3 separate regions of the Homo sapiens genome follow, and regions 1 and 3 are each linked to region 2. Evidence: fine-mapped expression QTL. A gene starts in region 2. Each other region holds a variant in brackets. All regions are shown on one strand. Distances are from middle to middle.

Region 1 (8,172 bases), 60 kb after region 2:
ACCATCATGGCCTTTCACATCCCTAGACCCTTCTAATTGCAGTCTTCATCTCATCCTTCCCCTGCTTTCAGGAAGGCCTGTGCCTTTTGCCTACATGAGGCCTTCTCCCACCCCATTCCAACTGCCAGGTTTTTATGTCTTGTTTTCCACTGTGTTCTTGTTTCTATTAGAAAGATAGAGACGCTTACTCTCCTTCTGCCTTGTGTAACTGTCCAGTTTTCCCATTACGCCATGTGTTTCTGAAAGGCAGGAAATTATATCTTAGACAGCACTGGCAGAACTCCGGTACATAATAGATGTTCCGCAAATGTTTATGCTTGTTGAGCACATGCATGCCCTCATTAGAGGTGCAGGACAATCTGACCTAACTACTACAGGGTTTTGCAAATGTTTAGACTTACTGTGGCCTACAGCAAGAAACATATCTTACTTGCAACCCAGTACAATGAACACATACATGCCACACAAAATGGAAATGCTTCACAAAATAACATTTTCTCTAATTCTTAACATGTATTCTGATTCTTTTCTTTTCTTTTCAAGACAGGGTCTCACTCTTTTGCCCCGGCTGGAGAGCAGTGGTGCTATGCTGGCTGACTGCAACCTCCACCTCCCAGGTTCAAGCGATTCTCCTGCCTCAGCCTCTCGAGTAGCTGGGACTACAGGCGCCCACCACCATGCCTGGTTAATTTTTGTATTTTTAGTACAGACAGGGCTTCACCATGTTGGCTAGGCTGGTCTTGAACTCCTGACCTCAAGTGATCTGCCTGCCCCGGCCCCTCAAAGTGCTGGGATTACAGGCGTGAGCCAACGCACCCGGCTAAGTTTTGTATGGGGTTTCACCATGTTGGCCGGGCTGGTCTTGAACTCCTGACCTCAAGTGATCTGCCTGCCTTGGCCCCCCAAAGTGCTGGGATTACAGGTGTGAGCCACTGTGCCTGGCCTACATTTACTTTTATTTATTTATTTGAGACGGAGTCTTGCTCTGTCATGCTGGAGCGCAATGGCACAATCTCGGCTCACTGCAACCTCTGCCTCCCAGGTTTGAGCAATTCTCCTGCCTCAGCCTCCCGAGTAGCTGGGACTACAGGTGCGTGCAACCACGCCTGGCTAATTTTTGTATTTTTAGCAGAGACGGGGTTTCACCACGTTGGCCAGGCTGGTCTTAAACTTCTGACCTCAGGTGATCGCCTGCCTTGGCCTCCCAAAGTGCTGGGATTACAGGCGTGAGCCACCGTGCCCAGCCTATATTTACTTTTAAATGGTCCTGACCAACTAAATGCATTTCATAATCTATTGAAAAATACTGACTAATGAACACATATATACTTGAATATTATTTTATGTCTTTCCTTGGGTTTCTCTCTGGTTTAAATAACATCAACACCCTTACTCTTTCCTAAGAACTGTTTTTAAACCTTTCAATAATTTAGCATGGTCTTTTTCCAGCTTCTTGCATTGTCTCCAAACTAAGACTCTAAGAAAGTCTTGGTCGTTGCCAAGAGCATGTGGATTACTTCCCAGTACCAAGACTTCCAGCTCCAGCTCGATCCAGCTCTTGCCCTCCATCAGTCAGATGGGCTTTCCAAATGACACAACTCCACATCCACCTGCCCTTGGGAATCTTCTATCTGTTTGGCCCCCAAGTAATTCACTCTAGGATTAGAAAGGATGGCCAGGTGAGGTGGCTCATGCCTGTAATCCCAGCACTTTGGGAGGCCGAGGCAGGCAGATCACCCGAGGTCAGGAGTTGAAGACCAGTCTGCCCACCAATATGATGAAACCCCGTCTCTACTAAAAATACAAACATTAGCCGGGTGTGGTGCACATCTGTAATCCCAGCTACTTGGGTGGCTGAAGCATGAGAATTGCTTGAACCCAGGAGGCAGAGGTTGCAGTCAGTCGAGACCATGCCACTGCACTCCAGCCTGGGTGACAGAGCGAGACTCTGTCTCAAAAAAAAAAAAAAAAGAAAAGAAAAGAAAAGAAAAGAAAAGAAAAAAAAAGGAATCAGTCCCTTCTCATAAAGCATTTACATTCGAGTTGTAGTTTCAGGGTCCTTGTTTGTTTCCCATCTGTCTGTCTGTCTGTCTCTCTCTCTCGACCAACCTGTGTAGAGTGTTTTGCGAAAAACACACATGTACAAGTTACTAGATTGACTCTTTTTTTTTTTTTTCTGAGGCAGAGTCTCACTCTATCACCCGGGCTGGAGTGCAGTGGCCATGATCTCAGCTCACTGCAACCTCCGCCTCCCGGGTTGAAGCGATTCTCCTGCCCCAGCCTTCCAAGTAGTTGGAATTACAGGCGCGTGCCACCAATCACGGCAAATTTTTGTATTTTTTAGTAGAGACGAGGTTTTGCCATGTTGGCCAGGCTGGTCTCGAACTCCTGGCCTTCCAAAGTGCTGGGATTACAGGAGCGAGCCACCGCGCCCGGCCTATTAGATTGGCTCTTTATCCCTGCTGAACATCTCTAGTTCTTCTTCGACTCACTTTGAATCCTGGAAGCACCACTACATTAAATGTCTCTTCATACTAATAAGAATTTTCGTCCAAATCGCGCAATCACCTCCAGGGCCAGGAAAGGGGACCCCCGGTCGGGAGTGCGGACTGGGCGTGGTCACTGACCCCGAGCGTCCCCTCCTTCTGGCTGACACGCGGCTGCAGACGCAGGAGCCTCCTGCTGGCGACTGGAGTGTCACTATAAATAATTGAGGCCAACACCCGCGGAGTGACATTCCACCCCGGTAGGCCTGGCCTACAGCTCCCAGCAAGCCTCGCGCAAGCTCGTGGACTCCATCTCCCGGCGGGCCGGCACTGCCCTGCCGGGCGGTCAATGGCCCGCTCTGAGTAGGTTTTTCCGTTTTTACCTGACAGCTGAGAATGTCTGGAAGCGGAGGGGCGGTAGCAGCCTGCCTGGGAATGGGCCACCCCGAATCCCGACCCGAAATAAATGCACCAGCATGCTGACGCGGTAAAACAGGAGCCGCCGGCAATAGCAGTTTCACCCTCATCCCACTGAGGGCTCTATGTTGGCTCCCGCCCCCATCCCGACAACCCCCTCGCGCCTTGGCGGTGATTGGTGAAAAGACACATCAATCTCACTTCAAGCTGTGATTGGAGGATATGTTGTCAGCCCCCTCCTTTTGGAACTGTGATTGGAGGGAATCGCCTATCCGCCCGCCCCCTGCTCTGGGCGGAGCCGAGCAGGAAGTGGGCCTGGCTTTTGCCAGGTGCTCCTGTGGGCTCCGGGTGACGTCCAAAGGGTGTGGCCCGACTGGCCCTCCAAGCTATGGAGTATCCATAGTAACGCGTCAGCCGCCGACCTCGGGCCATTTTCCCAAGGCTCCAGGATCTCTAGATGTCCCGTCGTCTCAAGGGCGTGTAGAACGCGGGTTTTGGGGGAGGAATGAACAAAAATCGACTGGGAGTTTTTTCAAAACACGTACATATGCCCTGCCACCCACCCCGCTCTCCTAGGTGCGTCAGAACTGCTGGGACATCTGTCACGTGAAGGGGTGGGTTGCCCCTCCACACCTGTGGGCGTTTCTCATTAGGTGGAAGGAGAGACTTGGAAAAGAAAGAGACAGAGAGACAAAGTATAGAGAAAGAAAAATGGGCCCAGGAGACCGGAGTTCAGTTTACGGAAGATCCACGCCGGCACCAGCCTCTGAGTTCCCTTAGTATTTATTGATCATTATCGGGTATGGCAGGATAATAGGATAATAGTGGAGAGAAGGTCAGAAGGTAAACACGTGAACAAACGTCTCTGCATCGTAAACAAGGTAAAAAAAAAAATGCTGTGCTTTTGATGTGCATACACATAAACATCACAATGCCTTAAGAAGCAGTATTGCTGCCAGCCTGTCCCACCTCCAGCCCTAAGGCGGTTTTCCCCTATCTCAGTAGAGATAGGCTTTACACCGAGACATTTCCATTGCCCAGGGACGAGCAGGAGACAGAAGCCTTTCTTTTATCTCAACTGCAAAGAGGCATTCCTTCCTCTTTTACTAATCCTCCTCAGTACAGACCCTTTATGGGTGTCGGGCTGGGGGACGGTCAGGTCTTTCCCTTCCCACGAGGCCATATTTCATCACATGGGGAGAAACCTTGGACAATACCTAGCTTTCCTAGGCAGAGGTCCCTGCAGCCTTCCTCAGTGTTTTGTGTCTGGGTACTTGAGATTAGGGAGTGGTTTGAGATTAGGGAGTGGTGATGACTCTTAAGAAGCATGCTGCCTTCAAGAATTTGTTTAACAAAGCACACCGTGCACAGCCCTTAATCCATTTAACCCTGAGTTGACACAGCACATGTTTCAGGGAGCACAGGGTTGGGGGTAGGGTTACAGATCAACAGCATCTCAAGGCAGAAGAATTTTTCTTAGTACAGAACAAAATGGAGTCTCCTATGTCTACTTCTTTCTACACAGACACAGGAACAATCTGATCTCTCTTTCTTTTCCCCACAGTCA[C/G]GTGTACTTGGGGAAGAACTCCCCCGGTGATTCTGACACTCTTGCCCTACGCCTCAGCCATTGAGAACTATTGGTATGGAGGGCCTGTAATTTATCAAGGCGCGGCCTCAGATCTGTCTGCCTCGCAGATACCTTCCTCACCCGGGTCAGAATGACTTGCCTCAGGCTCCTGCCAAAGAGTTTGCACCACTCGTTTCTTCCCTGTAATTACTTGTTTGCGTATTTGTCTCCCCACTGGGCTGCAGCTTCTTGGGTAGTGGCTCTGTTTTATTCATCTGTCCTCTTCCCTTCCAAATGCTTGGCAAGGAAAAGTGCCCTTTAAAATAAATCGACTTGAATTGGGAGTGGTGGTAGGGAGGCTGTCAATGAGAATGAATTCAGGGTGAAACTAGGTAGGACAATGTCCCAGGATTAGTTTGGGGTTGAGCTGGGGAGCTCTTGGTGTATGGGGGGGTCCTATTGTGACTATGGTGGAATAGCCACGATACTGAGTGACATTGGGCGAGTGAGGTGGGGGAGAGACTAGACAACACCCCACATAACCCATCTTGACAGATGTCTCAGAAAGATTATGGGAATTTCCTGGCCCCTCTGCAATGTGGGATTCCATTTTGCTACCTCTAGAAGGACAGGGTCTTGTTTTCATAGCTCTGCCTCCTACTCTGAGATAAAGGCATGCAAGACCTGAGCTACTACTACAATACCCCACACAGAAGGAGAAAATCAGGCACATCTGGATTCAAGTTTTGTGGGTGATTCCATGATTGCCTCCAGTGAACAATCTGGGAAGCACAGTGTCCATATCGCCATTTCAGGGGTACTGGCCCCAACATCAGCCCTTAGGCCTAAGCCCTAGAGACCTTGACACCTGGTGGCTGAGTCAGTATCTCAGTAATGGGCTTTAGAAGGAAACCTGGTGATTCAGGGCCTCAAGAATGGCGTTGGGCAAGCCACCAGACCAGCTGCCTGGGTCTCCTCCTCCTTGTTGAGGTGACAACAAGGAACTCAGTTCAGCTCCTCCCTGGGTATCCAAATTATCCTTCCAAGTCCCAGACTCACAGCTGTCCTCCCTTCTGATTCAGCCCTGATGCTTTTCAGGGGGTCCCAGAAGTGGGATCCGGACTTGAGAGAATGTCACAGTTGAAAATGATAAGGATGCAAACGGAATGGAACTTTCAGAGAACCCCAATTTTCTACTCTAAGTTCTCCAAACCAACTCTCAAATCCAAGATAGCTGCCTTTCCTTTCTTCACCTCCTCTTCTTAGTTTTCCCCAACTTGGCTGCAAAGTCAGCCTCCCCTCTTCTCTTCCTTAGCACCTCAGACCAATAAAACATGCAACCTTTTCTTATTCTTTTTAAAAAATTTATTTTTGACCAGGCGCAGTGGCTCACGCCTGTAATGCCAGCACTTTGGGAGGCCAAGGCGGGTGGATCACGAGGTCAGGAGTTCAAGACCAGCCTGGCCAACATGGTGAAACCCCATCTCTACTAAAAATACAAAAAATTAGCTGGGTGTGGTGGCACACACCTGTAGTCTCAGCTACTCAGGAGGCTGAAGCAGAAGAATCACTTGAACTTGGGAGGCGGAGGTTGCAGTGAGCCGAGATTGTGCCACTATACTCCAGTCTGGGTGACAGAGTGAGACTGCCTCAAAAAGAAAAAAAATTATTTTGTTTGTTTTTTAGATTTTGTAGAGATGGTGTTTCCCTAAGTTGCTCAGGCTGGTCTCGAACTCCTGGCCTCAAGTGATCCTCTCGCCCGGGCCTCCCAAAGTCCTGGGATTACGGGTGTAAGCCAACATGCCTGGCCCCTTTACTTCTTCTTTTCTGTTTTGGTCACAAAACATTTCTCTGTTGATCACTGTAGTGTGTGTGTGGAGGGAAGTGGGGGAGGTACACTCTTAAGAAATGAAATAGTTAACATCTTGGTCCTAAGATTTGTTGTAGAGATGGAGTCTTCTCATTCTGTTCCCCAGGCTGGTCTTGAACTCCTGGCCTCAAGCAATCCTCTTTCCTCGGCTTCCCAAAGTGCTGAGATTGATTACAAGTGTGAGGTACTGCGCCCTGCTACAATCCTTTAATAGGATGTTTTTGGGGGGGGTGGCAGGGGGCAGGATCTAGCTCACTGTAACCTATACTGTTCCAGTGTAACCTGCACCAAGCCATCCTCCCACCTCAGTCTCTTGAGTAGCTAGGAACACAAGCACACATCACCACACCTGGCTCTAACACGATTTTGCTTTTTGCTTTTGTCATTTTGGCTGCTGTTCTTTTTATCTTTCATTCATTCAAGGTCTGAAGATGGAGATAATAGGAATCTTCTCATCTCAATGTGCTCTTTGGCCCCTCCTCTTAAACTGATGCCCCTCTCAGGCCCTGAGGGATTTGGCCTCAGGTTGCCCTGGAAGGGGTGTGAGTGATCAGACAGGTGACTGAGAGCTGGGACGCCTGAGGCCTGCCTAGGCTGAGTCACCTAGTAATGTTGTTGTCATTGTTCCTGTTGAAGTCCCAGCTCAGTGTCACAGACCTTTGTGGAAGCAACAACAGCTCCCATCCTTCCAACCTTTCTGGAGAAGCCGTGGCCTGATGGTGAGCCGAATGGGCTGGGGGGGGAGAAGAAGGCGGCTGGGGCGGTGGGGAGATCTGGGGCCCGGATCGGTGCCCCTCCTCCCCATGCCACTGCCACCTCCTCCTCCTCCTTCATGCCGGGGACCTGGGGGAGGGAGGATCTCCATCTTCTCTCTGTCCCCTGCCCCTCATACAAGAAGCTCCCCCTCCTCATTTTCCCCTCCCACCGCAGGGCCCCCTTGCTCAGTGCTACAGGGGACAGGGGCTTCTCAGTCTTGCCACAGTGCTCTCCCTATCCCAGCCACCCCCCCAACACAGGCTCAACCTGCAATGACACCTGCCTCTGCATCTCCCTCCTGGGGATCCCACTCCACCCCACCCCTGGCCCCGGCAACCCCCACTCCCTCACAGCAGTGCCCCCAGGACTCTCCTGGGCTGCGGGTAGGCCCTTTGATCCCTGAACAGGATTATGAGCGGCTGGAGGACTGTGACCCTGAGGGGTCCCAAGACTCACCCATCCACGGGGAGGAGCAGCAACCCCTGCTTCATGTCCCTGAAGGGCTCCGAGGTATGTGTGTGGGTGTGGGTGGGAGAGGGTTAGTGGTGCCTGGGAGCTCCAGTACTTATCCCAGGCTGGGCCTCTGGCAGCGGGTTGAGAACGTGGAGAATTGATCACATGCCAGGGGCTGACACTCTCCCCTCTGTGCCCAGGCTCCTGGCATCACATCCAGAACCTGGACAGTTTCTTCACCAAGATATCCTTTGCGCTAGGCCTGCAGAGGTGGCATGGGAAGGTCCTCTTGGAGCTGGCACTGTTCTTGGCAGGGAGACTCCGTGAGGGCGTCATGGGTGGGAGACTTGTTGGGGCTGAGGGGAGGTGTCCTCAGGAGAGGCCCCCCGTGCCTCAGGCTTGTTCCTTGACACGCAGCCACATCTACAGCTACCACCAGCGGAATGGCTTTGCCTGCATCTTGCTGGAGGATGTCTTCCAGCTGGGGTGAGACGCTTAGCCCGGGCCCGGAACTCGGTCCCCTGGGCCCATGGCTTCCTTCTGTCATTTTGCTTCCTTAATTGTGCCAGCTGCTTCCATCCCATGCTTTCCCGAGCAGCCCAAGGGCTCAGCAGGGGCAGGGT
Region 2 (8,172 bases):
AATCTAGGTCTCCTTCTGGACTCCCAGTGCCTCTCTGGCACCTCCTACAGGCTGAGTCGTTCTCTCCAGGTGCACCAAGCCCAGACCTTCTGGCCCCTTCGCTCCCTGTCTCTCCTTTGATTGTCTGCTTTTCACTGTGCTAGATGCAACTGGGCCGCACAGTAGGAGCTAAATGAATGTATCTGGAACAAATGAAGCTTTCCCTGGCTACTAGCACCCACATGGTTATGCTCTTTTTCAGAATTGCTAGAACTCTTGCGAGCAAAGTCCTGCATAAGCAACCAGGCCCCCATGAGACACTCAGTCCCTAAACCAACGAATTGCCAGAGGGGCCTGGGCTGGCTCCAGATGCATGTCCCCGGCACCCATCCCAGACCCCCCCAGTCCTCATCTTTGAAGGGAACCTCAGCAGTGTGTGGTGCAGCAGGGCCCACGGCGGAATGCAGGGCCCGGCCAGGGAGTGCCCACCCAGGAACAGTAAGGAAAGCTCAAGAGAGCACCCTGGCACAAACATGGGGACCATCATGCCAGTCCTCCAGGATCAAGTCACAGGACGAACAGAAACAGACACAAACACTAAAACCCCAGGTGTGCCTAAGGGCTGAGGGCTGTGGGATGCCAGGGCGTATGCCGTTTTGTTTTGTTTTGTTTTTGTTTTTTTTTGAGACGGAGTCTTGCTCTGTTGCCCAGGCTGGAGTGCAGTGGTGCGATCTCAGCTCACTGCAAGCTCTGCCTCCCAGATTCACACCATTCTCCTGCCTCAGCCTCCCGAGTAGCTGGGACTACAGGTGCCCGCCACCACGCCCGGCTAATTTTTCGTATTTTTAGTAGAGACGGGGGTTTCACCATGTTAACCAGGATGGTCTCGATCTCCTGACCTCGTGATCCGCCCGCCTTGGTCTCCCAAAATGTTGGGATTACAGGCGTGAGCCACTGTACCCGGCCACATGCACCGTCTTACTCTCCCTCTGAGCTGCCACCCAACTGCAGTCACAGCTGTGGCCCCTTCTCTGTCTAGCTGAGGCTTGACCCAAACAAGAAACCCCCACATCTCTTTACCTTAGTCCCTTTAGGATGTCACCAAGCCCACAGCCCAGGGCAGGCAATCTGTGAACTGAATGAAAGTGAGTGGGGTAAGGGTGACAGTGAGAACGCTCTGCTGGCCAGGCCAGGCCGGCTGGAATGCTCGAAGTAACTGTTTAAAAAAAAAAAAAAAAAAAAAAAAAGCCCTAGTGGGAAAACGATGGAGAAACCTGAGTAAGTCACCCAGCTGACAAAGCCCAGCTCCGGCACACATAATAGTAGCCATATGGCACACACACCTAATAGTCAGGTCCACTTCCACTTCCAGGCGGGAGCCCCCCCCCCCCATCTGGGAACTGCCAGCAGGGATCCCAGGCCCTCCCCAAGCCCCTGCTCCTCCCCTGTGCCGGGCCCTCACCTGCACACAACGACTGGGACCAGCAGGTCCTGGAAAGATCCCGGGCTCCTTTGGGGCTCCTGGCTAGCTTGGTACAACATCCTGCGCTCCACGTGCCCAGTGTCCCCATTTGGACTGAGGCCCTCGTTCTCCTGCATCCCTCTTTCTAGGACTCAGCCAGGAAACCCAAGCTGTCAGGGAGCGCTCACTGCAGGTGAGTGCCAAGCCGGAAGCGGGCTCCTGTTGAAGGCCTATACTCTCCCTGGCTGTATCCGCTTGGCTCCCTCCCTTCTCTGAGCCTCAGTTTCCCCACTAGTGAGGTGAAGGTGGCTCAGAGGCTCTGCACATAGTGAGCCCTCCAGCTCTCCCTCCCAGCTGAAGGCTGTACTTCTTCCACTCCCTAAGGCCAAGTAATGGGCAGGTTTTCTCTTTCCTTGGCCTCTGGTGGGAAAGGAACTTTTCAAAATGGTCTCCCTCTCCTCAAATCCTGTCCTGAAACACAGGAAAGCCAAACATCCCCTGCTTCCTCCTGTCCTGGACACGGGGTCAGAAGTGACTGTGAGTGGCAGAGACTACAGGAGGCCCAAGTGCCCACTGCACTTCCTCAGAGCCAGATGGATCCTGACCGCAGGTCCCACGTCACCTTCAGAGCTGGGACAAACAAACCCTTCACCGAAGTCTAAACAGAGTGAGGGAGGCTTTGTTATACACTCGGAACTGCCGCCCCTTTCCACCGAGAGGCTTAGCCCCAGGAAACACAGGACCCGGCTCCCAGCTGACACTGTGTTTATGTAACAGCCTAGGTCTGTTCCGCCCTGGGGCTGGGGGTGGAGGGCTGGGTCTCAGTCCAGCCTCAGACTGTGCTCGGAAACGCCCAGGGAGTCTGCGCCTCTCCCTCCTCGCAGAAAGAAGGTGGGGACACCGCTTCGCAGGACAGAAGCAATATGGTTTGGCAGATGGAGAGGAGTTCTATCGCAGGAAGGATATAGGGCAGAAACTGGAGAAGGAGTGGTTTTTTTTTTCTTTTGAAGACTGCCTACAGCAGAAAAGTGGGAACGCAAGACGGGTGAGGTGGATAAAGATGACGGTGCCAGGAGAGGCTGGGCAGGGGGGAGGGAGGGACAGCAGGGCAGCAGGGCAGCAGGGCCCAGGAGTGGGAACAGCAGGGCTGAGAACGGATGTGTGAGCCGCGGCTGGGTCGGTCTGGTGACAGTGAGACACCGGCTCCCGGGATTTCACGAGGGTGAGGCCGAGCTTCCAGGCCTAGTAGACGGAACCATGGGGTATTTCCAAACCGCAATGGAGAAGTCGGTCAGGGGAGGGCTCTAGGAGGGGAAATTCTGCCTGTTGTGTTAAATTTAAGATCAGGCAAAAAAAACTCAAGGGCGCCCCAGGAATCAGCCTTCACATCACAAAAGATGCTCAACCAGAGGCTCCCCTGAGCTGGGGAGGAGGGGTCGCTGCTCATCAAGCTGGAGCCAGGGGAGCCCGGAAACCTCTCCCTGCTCTGGGAAAAGCTCGGAAGCAGATGTGCCCCCACCCTCCTGTGGCCGGCCCACGAGGCTTGTCGCCCTCCAGAAGGAGCTGGGGGAAGGTAAGCTTGGAGCAAATCAGGAATGTCTTTACTTCCTCCAAGGACAGTGAAGCTGCAGCAACGATGTCTCTCCCGCCTCCACCCTCTTCAGATCTAAGAGGAAAAATTGGTCATCTCCTGTCTTTGGGGCCCAGGGCTCGCACAAATGCCATCTCCTAGTCCCCAGCCACAGCGGTGATTCAGGCCATTTACTCAGATCCACGTTAATGAGTTTTTTCTGTCACCTAATTAGTTCACAGAGAACTCAGCCTTGAGAGGAAAGAAATAAGAACGGGTTGGGAAAAGGCAGAAGGAAGTCAGACTGGCATGTCACAACAAAAGATAGAACCCAGCACCACATGGGGTCCCCCCAGACCCAGTACTTCTTCCCCGGCTATGGGGACCTCTGAAAGCAGAAAGGGAGGTGTTCAGGTGCACTATCCCCCAGAACCTCAGGCAAGCAGATGAAGCTGGGAGTGGGGCCCTAACCTTAAGGCCCAAGTCAGGGACAGGCCCCTGCCCATAACTCCATGTTATCGCAAAAGGCCTTGGCTCTCACTGCATTTCCACTGAGGCCAAACCCACCACCTGCCGGTGGGCGTCCCCTTTCAAACAGAGCTGGGGGAGGAAGCAGATGGCCCAGGGTGAGGCCCATCTGTCCGTGCCCGCTCGAAGGTCACCATGCCACCGGGGTGCCTGCGGGTGCCTCCAGCACCCACCACACCAGGGCTTGCGAGGCATCTGCCAGCAGCGTGCCACCACTTCCTGTGCCCTCAGCGGTCGAAAGTCCAGGGCCTAAGGGCCCAGAGAAAAAAGCGCTAGGCAGCGCAGTGGCCGGGGGTTTCCGGTCCCCGACTCCGGGTGCGGTGTCCCTGGCGGTCGGTCAGCACCCGGCTGCCCAGCAGCTGCCTCCAGACCGAGGAGCCGCGGATCCCCGTCAGGCTCATGACCCGGCCAAAGCGCGGATGGACCTGCCGGCGCCTCCCACGCGGTCGCTGAGCCTCAGCCCAGCGCCAGGCCCGGCCCGCTCCCGCTTGGCCGCCGCGGCGTAGGGGGTGTGCGTCGGGAGAGGGCGCCGCGGCGAGCGCCACCCTCCGGGCCTGCGGGCGCTGGGCCCGGGAAGGCTGCCATCCACTAACGCGAGGCTCCGATCCCCCGCCCCACTGCGGAGCAGGGCCCGGGCAGCGGCTAAGAAGCCTCCCCGGTCACGACCCCACCTCCCCGCAGCTGAAGCCCTCTGCCGCGCCCACCTTCCCCGGCCAGGCCTGGACAGATCTGGTCCCGGCCCCCCCAAGCGACACCACCTTCGCGCCCTGGAACACAGTCAGCAGAAAACCCCCAACCCCAAAGTGTCCCCGAACGAGATATGGCGAAGCTGCCCGCCGGTTCTGCAACACAGATCGGCAAACCTCGTGGCCTGGTCCTCAAGCGCGCAAGGACCCCCGACAGGGAGAGCATGGCCAGGCACGGCCTGTGGAGCCCTCGGCCGGCGCCGGAGAGGCCACTGCGCCCCGGCTCCCGCAGCCCCCGGCTCCGCTCACCCTCGATGGAGATGACGTGCTCCCGGATCTGGTTCTGCAGCGCCAAATCCTCGATGCGCTCGATCAGGTCGTAGATGGCGTAGATATTGGGATGCACGGACTCGAAGCGCTGGATCTCGGCCCGGATGGCCGCGGAGTTGGAGAGCGCGAACTGCTGGGGGGGCCCGCCGGCCAGCTGCTGCGAGGGGCCGCCGCCGCCCCCGGCCCCGGGCCCCGCGCCGCCGAACTGCCCGCCGCAGACGAGCTGCTGCGCGGCAGCGCCGCCGCCCCCCGGAGCCGCCAGGCTCTGCTGCTGCTGCGGGCTCTGCCCCCCGCCCGCCTGGAAGTTCATGGCTTCGGAGCCGTGGGGCCCGAGGCGGGCCCGGGGCGGCGCGGCGGAGGCGGCGGCGGCGGCGGCGGCGGCAGCGGCGAGCGGGAGCGCGGGGCTGGCGGGGCCGGGACTACTGGGCTGGCGGCGCGGGGCTAGCGCATGGAGCCGGGGGCCGGGGGCCGGAGGCCGAGGCCAGGAGGCGCCGCCGCGCACGCTGTGGCCGCCGCTGCCGAGCGCTTCCCAGCGCCGTGATCCCGCTGCCTCGGAGCAGCCTCCAGCGGCAACAACAACGGGACCGGGAGCGCGCGGCCCAGGCCCTCCCCCCGCGTCATGCGCACGCACCGCCGCCCCCGCCGGCTCCGGCACACGCAGCCCGAGCCCCCCTCCCCGCCGCCCCCGCCCCTCCTGCGCGCCGGCCCGGGCGCCCCCGCCCCTCGCTCGCTCGCTGGCTCTGCAGCCTCCACCCCCGAGCCGCGCGCTCCAGCCCTGGCGCCCCGGCCCCTCCCACTCAGCCTCGGCCCTTCCGCCTCCTCACCAGCCCCCACCCGCATTGCCTCGAGGGCCACCCTCGCGGAGGGGACAGCTGCCCTGGTCTCCTCCCGCGCCCGGCTGTCGCTTTCGCCTCCCTGCGCTGATCTGGGCGGGGTGTCGGATCTCTAGGCAATGCCCAAACAGTGCCCTGCGCCTGAGGGTGCTGCTGACCGAGGCTGATTGGCCGAGGAGTCCGCCCAGGCCCAGCTGCTCCTCGCTTACAGCGTCCCGCCTTCAGTGCGGCATAGGCTCCCCTGTCCCCAGGCTCCGAGGTCAGCCCTAGAGACCACCCTGCTGCCGGAGTTTTCTCCCTGTCTCCCTGCCCAGGCTCTCCACTGCCGGCTGCAGCAGTGCTCTCCTAAAAGACCCTCCCCCTGCCGGACTTGGGAGATTAGCTAAATGCTACCCGACCCCATTGGTACATAGAGGAAGAAGAGGGAGGGATGAAATAGTATATGCCTTTCTCCCCTACTCATCCCATTGGAGAGACCAACCAAAGCCCACGTGGCTCTCAATTTTTCTTGTCCTCACCCCTTGTCCATCCTGTCCTTTCACTCCCTCTAGGGCCAGGGAGCTCCCTGAAATGTCCCAGTTCCTCTGCAGTCCCATTGCCAAAGTGGGCTGCAGTTCTGTTAGCCCCCTCCCCCCCACCAACACACACACGTTTCCTAAAACCTACAAGAGGTGACATTTGCAGAGGCCGCAGCCAATAAATCTGCCAGAGATGTTGCAGGGTATCTGCTACCCCCAGATATCCTAGGGCATCAGTGACACACATCGTCCTTCTTACGCACACTTCCACTTCCCTGGCCAAGCTGGATCTTTTCCCAGCATGAAGCTGTCCACTGTTTGATTACCCACACAACTCAGCCCCAGAACCAACCCAGTCACTATTCCCGAGTTCCTTGTACCTTCCAAAGCACCTGGTGCAAGCTAATCAACACACAGGGTCTCCTAAGCTCCTGAGGAACCTGTGTTTCTATCTCCCTGCATAAGCTTAAGGATATCTTGTGCCCTCTCTGGGTTTCATCTGCGAAATATAGTGGTTGAACATAAAACCTAGTTCTGATGTTGTATAATTCTAAAAGTAACATCCAACATCTCTTTTAGGTGCTTAATTAGAATTGACAGCAGGAAGTAGCACCAGGTATACCTCCCAAGAGAGACACTAAGAGCAAAGAGCTCCTCAAATGTGTTGCCCCAGCAACTAGCACACACGTGTTATAGCACTGTTGGGCTGTTCACACGTCTAGCTCTTCTACTAGTATATGGAGCCACATGAGGGCAGGAAGAGGGTCTGATTCACCATTTTATTCCCAGTATCTTGCACAATGCCTGGGATATAGTGTGTGTGTGTGTGTGTGTGTGTGTGTGTGTGTGTGTGTGTGTAATTTTTTTTGAGACGGAGTCTCACTCTGTCACCCAGGCTGGAGTGCAGTGACTCGATCTCAGCTCACTGCAACCTCCACCTCCCGCATTCAAATGATTCTCCTGCCTCAGCCTCCCGAGTAGCTGGGATTACAGGCGCCCGCCACCACGCCCAGCTAATTTTTGTATTTTTTTTTGTAGAGACAGGGTTTTACCATGTTGGCCAGGCTGGTCTCGAACTCAGTGATCCGCCTGCCTTGGCTCCCAAAGTGCCAGGATTACAGGCGTGAGCCACTGCGCCTGGCCATAGTACATCTTTTAAAAAATATGTTAGTAGAATAAATGAATGAACAGGAGGGATGGAACTAGAGGTAGGTTAGTTCTGTATGGTATCAATCTAGACTGACATTCCTAAGGCAATATTTGGGCCACTTGCTCCCACAGTAGGCAAGAACCATGGGAAGACTAGGATAGATTATTTTAAATCAAGACTGGCCTGTAAAAACCAGGATGTGAGATCTCTGTGGCTACAGGAGCCCAGAGGGAAAAATCCAGATATCCACAGGCCTGGGATTCAATGCCATCCACACAGTAACACACCAAAGACCCGACTCCTGAGACCAGGTTTGGGTGGAGGTGAGCGAATAGCTACTGTGTGACATGTACCTTAGTTTTTACACTTTTTAATAAAACATCTAATTTCTTCCTTATGATTGACTTACGAGGTGTGTTTTAGAGAGGAAGAAATTAATGTTCAGAGAGATTCAATAACCCACCCAAGGTCATATAGCTGAGAAGCACAAGATAAGGGATCAGGATTTCTGCCAGGTTCCAAGGTCTATGCTTCTTCCACAGCCCTGAAGGGGCTGTGGAGTCCCGAAGGTGGAGGAGGGGACCAAGGAAAGGGGCAGCCCTGAGGATGGGTATCCCTAGCCAGCCTGGTGGGGCAGCCCATGGATATTGGGCTCTGGGCTGAAGAATTAATTTTGGTGGCCAAAGTGCCTTCTGGCGTCCACTCTGACATAACAGTAGGGGCCACCTGAGTTCCTCAGAGCCTTCCACACTGCATCACGAACACGGGTACTCTGACGTGCTCCAGCTGACGTCGGTGTCTGGTGTGATAGATGCCCTGGCTGTTGGCAGGGGAGGGGGCGGACGCTGCTGCCGCCCAAACCTCTAGGGGGTAGCACAACCCCCAAAACCGCCCCCGCCAGCCCCTTCGCGATCTGCAGGCGCAGAGAACCGCGGGTGGAGCCCCACACGTGGGTCCGCAGGGCGGAGGGCGGGGACAGCGCGGCGCCGGACTACAAGTTCCACAATGCCCCGGGCCGCGGCGGCGGGGAAGGAGGGGTGCTTCAGGTGCCTGCGACCTCCGCGCCTCCCGCCCGGAAGTGCCCGAGGGGCCGCGATGGAGCTGGGGGAGCCGGGC
Region 3 (8,172 bases), 24 kb before region 2:
TGGCCGGCCGGGGCCGCGGAGTCGGCTCCCCGCGGGTGCGGCTGCGCCGGGTCGGCGCGGGGCTGGACGCGGGGCTGGGCGCAGGCGAGACGGGCGGTCCCGAGGGCGCCAGGCCCCGGCGGCCGAGGCGCGGGCGCAGGAGGCCGAGCAAAAGGCCGCGGGCGCCGGTGGGCGGCGGCTCCGGGCCGCCCGAGCACACGCTCCGCGGCCGCGCCGGCTGCTCACTGGCGGCGCAGAGGGCGGCCTGCAGGGCGGCGGCAGCGCGGCCGGCCGAGGCGCCGTGCAGGTCCAGCGAGTCGCAGACGCTGTGGGCGCGGCGGCAAGCGGCGGGCCGCTCCCCGGGACAGCTGTCCCCCTGCGGCCAGCCCCGCTCCATGCTCAGGGCCGGCGGGCGCGGGCCAGGCCCATGGCGAGGGGCACGGGGCTGGGCCCGGGCCGGGGCCGCGGCCGGGGCGCACGGACCTCCGGCCTCTGGGCACCTGGTGTGGGCCGACCGAGTCCCTCAACTCCTCCACCTCGCGGCCGGCAAGCCCAGACCTGGAGAGGCCGGGAGTCAGCCCAGCCCGGAGAGAGAGGCGGCAAGTCTGGCCTGGAACGCCCGGGAACGGCGGCGCGGCGCGGGGGAGCCGGCCTGCTGGGGCAGCCCCTGGGAGCCCTCGAAAACAGGAAATTCCAGCCCAGGGCGCCTCCTAGGATCCGGCAGGTAGGTGAGGAGCTGTCATTACGAGCAGGCCAACTAAATAACAGTCCTCAGTCCACCACACACTGGGCCCCATTTTGGAGAAAAGCGGGCCATTTCTCATTCTTCAAAGGAAGAGCCAGAAGAGCCAAGAACATGAGGCCCAGAAGTATGACAAGCCTGAGTGAGACGTCAGAGGCAGCCATGCCGGGTCTGCGCGCGTGTCCTCGTCTGCAGCACGCGAGCTTCAACGAGGTGGTCCTGTCTTAGTTTCGGCTCTGACATTCTGAGGTCGAGAGTTGCTGGCTGCTACAGTCGGTTTCTGTTGATGACTGAGGCTGTCTTCTTTGGAGATTATAAAATCCAGAAGATACTCATCTGTCTGGACTGAGTTAAGCGTCCTGCCTAAGGGCAGCAGAGAAGTCAAAGATAACCTCCGCTGCAGTTCTGGGTGAGTGACTCACTTCTGAGGCCCGGACCTCTCCAGGCCCCTGCTGCTCACTGGGTCTCACCTCCTGTCGGGATGATGGGCTGAGATCAAGTGGTAGCCTGCGGTACTGGCTCCAGCCTGACGTTCTGTAAATGAAAACACTCCTCCAAGCTCCGAGGCCCTTCCAATTCATGACTGTGGGCTGCCTGGACACCCAGTAAACCCAGAGCTCACCCAGAATTGGAGGCAAGAGCTCCCCGGCTGTGATTGACACTGCATTGTAAACATCAGTCCTCTCCCAGGCTCTGAAGCCCAGCCAGTTTCCGGTCATCCATAAAGTCAGAAACCACTGGCTGCCTCAATACCAGCCACGGATCAGGAGAAACCAGTTTAAGTAGTGGCAAGGGACCAGGGGCTTGCATTTCCTTTAAAAAGACAATACTGCCCACTTTCCTCCACCCCCAGTCCAGCCCAACTCCCAGCGTCCCTTTCAGCTTTAGAATTCCATGGACCTGGTCAGAGCCAAGTGGGAGATACAAGTGGCACATTCCTGAGGGGCTGAGTGGGAATGCCTAAGGAAGGCAGGGCCTCTCCATCCTAGGTGCTCCCTGCAGAAAAGAGCGCTGGAAATTCCCAAGTCCTGGGCTGGATCTCCCAGGCCTGGAGAGGCCCTGGTGGTGAGTTTGTATTTCCGTGGGACTAGTTATTAGCGTTGGTGAAGACGGCTTCTTCCTGTATGGGATGCATGTTCCCCCCACAATGGAAGTACCAGCAGAGGGGCCCTTCCCAGGTCCCCAGGCAGGTACAGAGACAAGAACACAACTCAGTGAAGCCGGCCAACGTCACTGAGCTGCAGATCAAAAGGAAACACATTCTGCCTTGACTTCCCTATCTACGTGTATCTGCCCTCTCTCTCACGCACAACAGGGAATGGCTGTTCTGCCAAAGAATAAGGCTGCCCACTCACAAGCTCATCCTGCAAGCCAGTGAAAATGCAAGCAAAGGGTCGGGCGCGGTGGCTCACACCTGTAATCCCAACACTTTGGGAGGCTGAGGCAGGCGGATCACCTGAGGTCAGGAGTCCGAGACCAGCCTGGCCAACGTAGTGAAACCCCATCTCTACTAAAAATACAAAAAATTAGGCACCGTGTCTCGCGCCTGTAATCCCAGCGCTTTGGGAGGCCGAGGCAGGCAGATCACTTGAGTCCAGGAGTTGGAGACCAGCCTGGGCAACATGGTGAAACCCCGTCTCTACAAAAAAAATATGAAAAATTAGCCAGGCATGGTGGCACGAGCCTGTGGTCCCAGCTACTTGAGAGGCTGACGTGGGAGGATCGCTTGAGCCCAGAGGGTCCAGGTTGCCGTGAGCCAAGATGGAGCCACTGCATTCCAGCCTGGGCCACAGAGTGAGACCCTGTCTCAATAAATAAGAAGCAAGCACAGGACAGCAGCTATGGGAGCCGACCTCTGGAGACGGAGAGGGGATGGGGACACGGTATCCGACAGGGGATGGATCACTTTAGAACCTAGCTGCCTCTTTCAGTGGGAGAACAGTAGGATGGGAAAGAAGGGGGTTAAGGCCCCAGCTGCACACATGCTGGACACACACACACACACACACACACACACACACACACACACGTCTCGGGGAAGGCAGGCAGCAATCCCAGTCCCCAAAAGAACATCTTACAGTCTCAGAAGACATGTAGTCCCACTGCACCTGCAGAATCAGTCCAAGGAGAAAGTGCCACCTGGGTCAACTCCCAAACCCAGAACAGCTTTCTCTTCCTCACCTGGCTGCCCTCTCCTTCCCAGTCCTTTTCCCCAGAAAACTTTCCTGACCCGGAGAAACTAGACAGGGAAGGGCACCTGCTCCCACATAAATGTCTCAGGACATCAAGCCAGTCAAAGACCCCGAAAAGGAGAACAGCTGCAGGCACACACCTCTTTTGCTCATTGG[G/T]TCAGCCCAGGGTCAGAGATAAGGTCTCTGTTGTGCCTGATAAGATTCTGCTCCAAAGACACGCAGCAAACACAGCTGTGCTCGACACAGACAGCCACTACCTACTGGGCCCGAAGGAAATTAGGACAAACCTAAAAAGCTCCAGGCTGGGACTACACGAACAGTACTGAAATCCCACAACACAAGCCCTCACGTCAGTTCTCTGTTTATTAAGGCCACCGGAAACGCTGGACTGAATGTGACTCTCAGGGGCTGAGAGGCTCCATGGCAGTTTCTGGGGGACTAAGAGGAAATCTCTCACAAATGCCCGCAGTGTGCATCCTGGGGCAGGACGAACACAGCCTGCCCCGGAGCCAGAGAGCGCAGAAGCCGGGCTCAAGACCCCCTTCTGTGGACTACCTGGATGTCAGGAGGAGAAGCCGACTCTAGTTATGCCCAGTTTCTGTGCTGGCCTGGGCCTCGGGTGCCCTGCTTGCGTGTGCACAGGGGGGTGAGGGGCCGGGGGGGTCATGACGGGGAGAGAGAACACCCCTGGGCAGGTGTGAGGTGTGAGACCCTGCCAGAAAGAGAAAGCTGGTCCTGAGGATGTGGGAACTGGTCGCCTCCAGGTGTGTGTTGCTTGATCCACTGGTGAGCCCTGGCTGTGCCCGCTGCAGCCCACGTGGCCCACAGGGAGTTGGCAGATTTCTTTCGAGGAGATGAGGGAGGATGGATAAGCCTTCTCCTGAAAGCCGGAGCTTGTGGCCAGCTCCGCAGGGTGTGGAGCAGAACCACCAGCAGCCAGGTGTGGTCCCAGAACCACCGTGGCCCTCCCAAACAGTCAGGCCCTTCTTGCCCACAAGGTGGCAGCAAAACATCTTCCTGCAGCCGGGGCTGAGGCAGTGGCTGGGAAGGCTGGCAGGATGCTAGGGCTGGCCACACACCCGCCACTGAGCCCGGGAGGCAGTGGGGGCCACACCAAGACCCCTTCGCCCCCCAGGACTGGCTGGTGTCCAGCAGGCTCTCCAAGTTGGAGCTTAGGGAATCAGAGGAGAAGACGGGGGGCGGGGGGAGAGCGCTCAGGATGCCTCCCCAGTGGGGCCACAGTCCTCCCTAAGTGTCCCAGCAGCTGTCCCGAGACAACTCGAGTTGCTGCAGCAGCAGCCATGGACCTAAATTCCACCCCTAACAGCTCCATTCCAGCATCCCCCATTTTCAACAGCACCACATGAGCTCTGGAGCCGCACAAGCCAAAAGCCTGCTAGTAACACCCTCCATTCCCTTCCTTACCACTCCCCCAGCCCAATCCGTGTCAGTCCTGGTGGCGCTCCCTCCTAAATGTGGCCCAGATCCATCACCAGCTCCTTTCTTCAACTCAAAGGCAAGCCACCATCCTCCCGGGCCTAAGCACCACATCAGCTTCCTAGGGGTCTCCCATCTCCAGCCTCCATCACCACCACTGCCAAGTGATTTCCTTTACAGCTGGGGCGGACCTCTTCAGACCAGAACCTGGTCACCTCTCAGCAAAGCCCTGCAATGGCTCTCCAGCTGGCGTAGAATGGCACCCAATCCCCTTATTCTGTTCCAGTGCCCCGTGTGCTCCTGACTACCTGCTTGCTCTCACCTGACACCCTCCCCAGGACCCGCCTCCATCCCCATCCAGCCTTGACACCTCCCGGGCCTCTGCCCTGCTTGTCCCTGAAGGCATTTGGACCGTGGCTGAAGCATCCCTTCCTTGGGAGGCTGACCATCTCAGTGACCATGCTAACATCATCTAACACTTGCCACTGTCAGCAAGTGCCCCCACAACAGAACTCTGCCAGGCACATGAAGGTGGCCATGATTCCCCGAGTGAATGAGTGGAAGTCTTTGCTGAGCATGCACTGTGCTCCCAGGGCTTTTGGCCTCTTTGTGGGGAGGAAGGCCTAAGAGAGATGGGCCCTGGCTGGGCCAGTCTTTTGAGAGAAGTCACAGGCACAGGCAAAATAATCTGCACAGGCCCCAAGTTGAAAGGCACGGCGCACCCTGGAGTTGAGAAAGCTGGATTCAAGTTCAGCCTCTGGCACCTATTGGTGGGTGACCAGCCACGGTCTCCTTAACCTCAGGTCTGTCTGTAAATTAGGAATGGCCCAGCTTCCAGCTAAAGGTGCTGTGCAGGCCAGCCCTGTGAGCATGGAGGGCCGCATGGTGCCTGGCGTGCAGCGGGCAAGCAACAGAAGGAGCTGCTCCTATTGCGCAAGGGAGAGCCAGAGTGGACGCTGGGATCACTGAAACCAGCCCTCTCCACATCAGAAAGCCAGGCAGATGCAGTCAGCCCATGAAACCTTAGCAGCTCCCCCTCAGCTTGGCTTTGATTCCTGGGCTGGTCCCTCCATCTCCCCTCTAAGAGACCTCAGAGATACGGAGGACCCTGGAGAGCCCTGAGTCCTAACCCCCAGGACCTCAGAATGTGACCTTATTTGGAAATAGGGTTGTTGCAGATGTAATTAAGATGAGGTCATACTTGAGTAGGGTGGGCCCTGAATCCAATCTGACTCGTGTCCTTATAAAAGGGGGGAATTTGGGCATGTCGACAGACACCAAGGGAAGTCAATGTGAAGAGATGCAGGGAGAAGACGGCATCGACAAGCCAGGAAGAGAGGTGTGGGGCGGATCTCTCCCTAGTGCCTTCAGAGGGGGCGTGGCCTTGCCCACACCTTTATCTCAGACATCTGGCCTCCACAACTGTGACACAGTAAACTTTTTGGTTTTTGAGACAGGGTCTCCCTCTGTTAACCAGGCAATCACAGCTCACTGCAGCCTCGACTTCCTAAGCTCAAGCAATCCTCCTGCCTCGGCCTCCCAAGTAGCTGGGACTTTAGGCATGCAACACCATGTCCAGCTATTTTTTCTTTGTTTTCTTTGTTTTTTGTTTTTTGTTTTTTTTTTTTTTTACAGAGGTGGGAGTCTCACTATGCTGCCTATGCTGGTCTAGAACTCCTGGGCTCAAGTGATCAACTGGCCTTGACCTTCCAAAGTGCTGGGATTACAGGCATGGGCCACCGCAGCCAGCTAGGAACAGACTTAGGTTGTTTCAAACCACCCTGTTTACAATGGTTTATTACCACAGCCCTAGGAAGCTATGAGCTCTCCAGAAAAGCTAGTGCATACTGGGAAGAACACACAGGTGTTTTCTGAGGAGGTCCGAGTCCCCTTAATCCCTGCCATGGGTTCCAGGTTCAGAACTCGTGTTCTGGTTCATCCTCTCCTTTTAGAGATGAGGGCATTGACACCCAGAGAGGGGAAGTCACTTGCCTGCAGTTACACAGCCCAGCAGTGACAGAGCCTGGGCAGGGCCCAGGACTCCAGAATCCCAGGCTGGAGCTTGGGCCTCTAAGTCATCATTTCACATTATTTTTTGAGTGCTTACTAAGTGCATTCAGGGCAAGCAGACTGAAGTCTCTGCCCCACCCTGCCTCAAGGTGACGCGGCTGGCAGTCTGGACTGGCGTAGGACCCAGCCTACATCCTTGGGACCCTCCGAAGGCTGCTCTGAGGCCCGGGGATTCTGCCCCATCTCCAGAGGTCAGGATGTCGGTCTGAGAGCTCCCCAGTGACTTTGGTCCTCTCCTCCCCAGGGAAAAGCTGAGGGAGAGAAGGCGGCAGAGGTGCTGGTGGGGGTGCGGGTGGCAGAGAGAGCCACAGGACCGAGAGCAGTGCAAGGAGCAGGGAAACTGAGATTACCCCAGGGTGGGGGTGGGAGTGGCTGTCATTCCAGCCGAAAATGGCCTTTCGACACCAGGCCGGTGACATGGCGGTATTGTAGTACTACAGATGGTACTTGAGAGCAGTTTGTTTTCCTGTCTATCCATGAGCTCTGTGCTGGGTGCAATGGTGGACAGGACAAAGGCCCTCCCCTCGAAGACTCGGTCCCTTAGCATGTCCCCCATCTGGCCTCCTGGCTTTGTCCCATCTGGCCATGTTCTAAGACCCTGGAAGTGCCCGTGACGCCACTCCAGCTCTGACCAGCAACAGCAACTGTGGGCTTAGCTCTGCTTTCTAGCAGCTCCTCCCTGGAGAGGAACGCGACCAGCATGTGCTGCACCCCCCGCATGGGCCGGTGCCGTGCCAGAGGATCCTACACCTCACAGCATCTCCAGCCCTCCCATGGCCTGAAGGGTGGGGGCAGGAGGTGGGCCACCACCACAGGGTGGGACGGTGGGGGCTCCAGACTCAGAATATGAAGCATCGTACGGCTCTATGCCGTGTTGCACCTTTTTCTCATAACTGACCCATCGCCTACACTTTCGACATTTAAAAATGTGGTTCTCTCTGAACAGGCAGGCCAGCTGCAGTCCCATGAGCTAGAGTTCTGCCTCTTCCAACCCAATGAGCCTCTAAAATGCATTCCAAGTATGAGATTCATTCCCTGTCAGCAGCACCATCCCTTCCACTTGCCTTTGTATTTTTTACAAAAGTAAAAAAAAAAAAATTTTTTTGAGACGGTCTCATTTTGTCACCCAGGCTGGAGTGCAATGGCGCCATCACAGCTCACTGCAGCCTTGACCTCCTGGGCTCAATCGATCCTCCCGCCTCAGCCTCCTAAGTAGCTGGGACTACAGGTGTGCCACCTCGCCCAGCTAGGTTTAGTATTTTTTTTGTAGAGACCGCTTTCACCATGTTGCCCAGGCTGGCCTCCCAACTCCTGAGCTCAAGCAATCTGCCTGCCTTGGCCTCCCAAAGTACTGGGATTACAGGCATGAGCCATCGTGCCTGGCCCCAAAAGCAAAAACTTTTTTTTTTTTTTTTTGAGCCGGAGTCTTGCTCTTGTCGCCCAGGCTGGAGTGCAATGGCACGATCTCAGCTCACTACAACCTCCGCCTCCCGGGTTCAAGTGATTCTCCTGCCTCAGCCTCCCGAGTAGCTGGGATTACAGGTGCGTGCCACCACATCCGGCTAAATTTTGTATTTTTAGTAGAGACGGGGTTTCACCATGTTGGCCAGGCTGGTCTCGAGCTCCTGACCTCAGGTGATCTACCTCCCTTGGCCCCCCAAAGTGCTGGGATTACAGGCGTGAGCCACCACGCCCGGCCGCAAAATATTTTTATAAACAGAAGATGCAATAAAGTGTTCAAATCATTGCACT

The links. PIP is the estimated chance that this variant, and not a neighbour inherited with it, causes the effect.
Region 1: its variant is fine-mapped to the expression of AGAP3 in whole blood (INTERVAL, PIP above 0.99).
Region 3: its variant is fine-mapped to the expression of AGAP3 in pancreas (GTEx, PIP above 0.99).

What each region holds. Positions count from the first base shown.
Region 1 is chr7:151,023,308-151,031,479 of GRCh38, reverse strand. ATG9B (autophagy related 9B) reads left to right here and starts at 6,986. Exons shown (of 14, transcript NM_001317056.2): 1 at 6,986-7,606; 2 at 7,750-7,793; 3 at 7,971-8,035. The coding sequence starts at 7,057. ABCB8 (ATP binding cassette subfamily B member 8) reads right to left here and starts at 3,030. Exons shown (of 16, transcript NM_007188.5): 1 at 2,870-3,030. The coding sequence starts at 2,964. It overlaps LOC124901777 (a long non-coding RNA gene), which reads left to right and starts at 3,222. Exons shown (of 3, transcript XR_007060593.1): 1 at 3,222-3,517; 2 at 4,468-4,673; 3 at 6,447-6,485. RefSeq lists enhancers at 1,843-2,446, 2,698-3,007, 2,447-3,051, 3,657-4,261, 4,262-4,865 and 1 more. The variant C/G (reference allele first, on the strand shown) is at 4,471.
Region 2 is chr7:151,083,435-151,091,606 of GRCh38, reverse strand. It overlaps AGAP3 (ArfGAP with GTPase domain, ankyrin repeat and PH domain 3), which reads right to left and starts at 5,132. Exons shown (of 18, transcript NM_031946.7): 1 at 4,535-5,132. The coding sequence starts at 4,865. TMUB1 (transmembrane and ubiquitin like domain containing 1) reads left to right here and starts at 8,114. Exons shown (of 3, transcript NM_001136044.2): 1 at 8,114-8,172. It overlaps LOC124901778 (a long non-coding RNA gene), which reads right to left and starts at 2,604. Exons shown (of 2, transcript XR_007060595.1): 1 at 1,442-2,604. RefSeq lists enhancers at 1-427, 428-933, 1,059-1,568, 1,569-2,079, 3,577-3,736 and silencers at 3,957-4,226, 4,587-4,656, 5,023-5,112, 5,163-5,412, 7,961-8,172.
Region 3 is chr7:151,106,975-151,115,146 of GRCh38, reverse strand. All of the region lies in intron 1 of AGAP3 (ArfGAP with GTPase domain, ankyrin repeat and PH domain 3), which reads right to left. Among named protein-coding and RNA genes, the nearest start is that of AGAP3, 25 kb to the right of the region's middle. RefSeq lists an enhancer at 6,307-6,969. The variant G/T (reference allele first, on the strand shown) is at 3,070.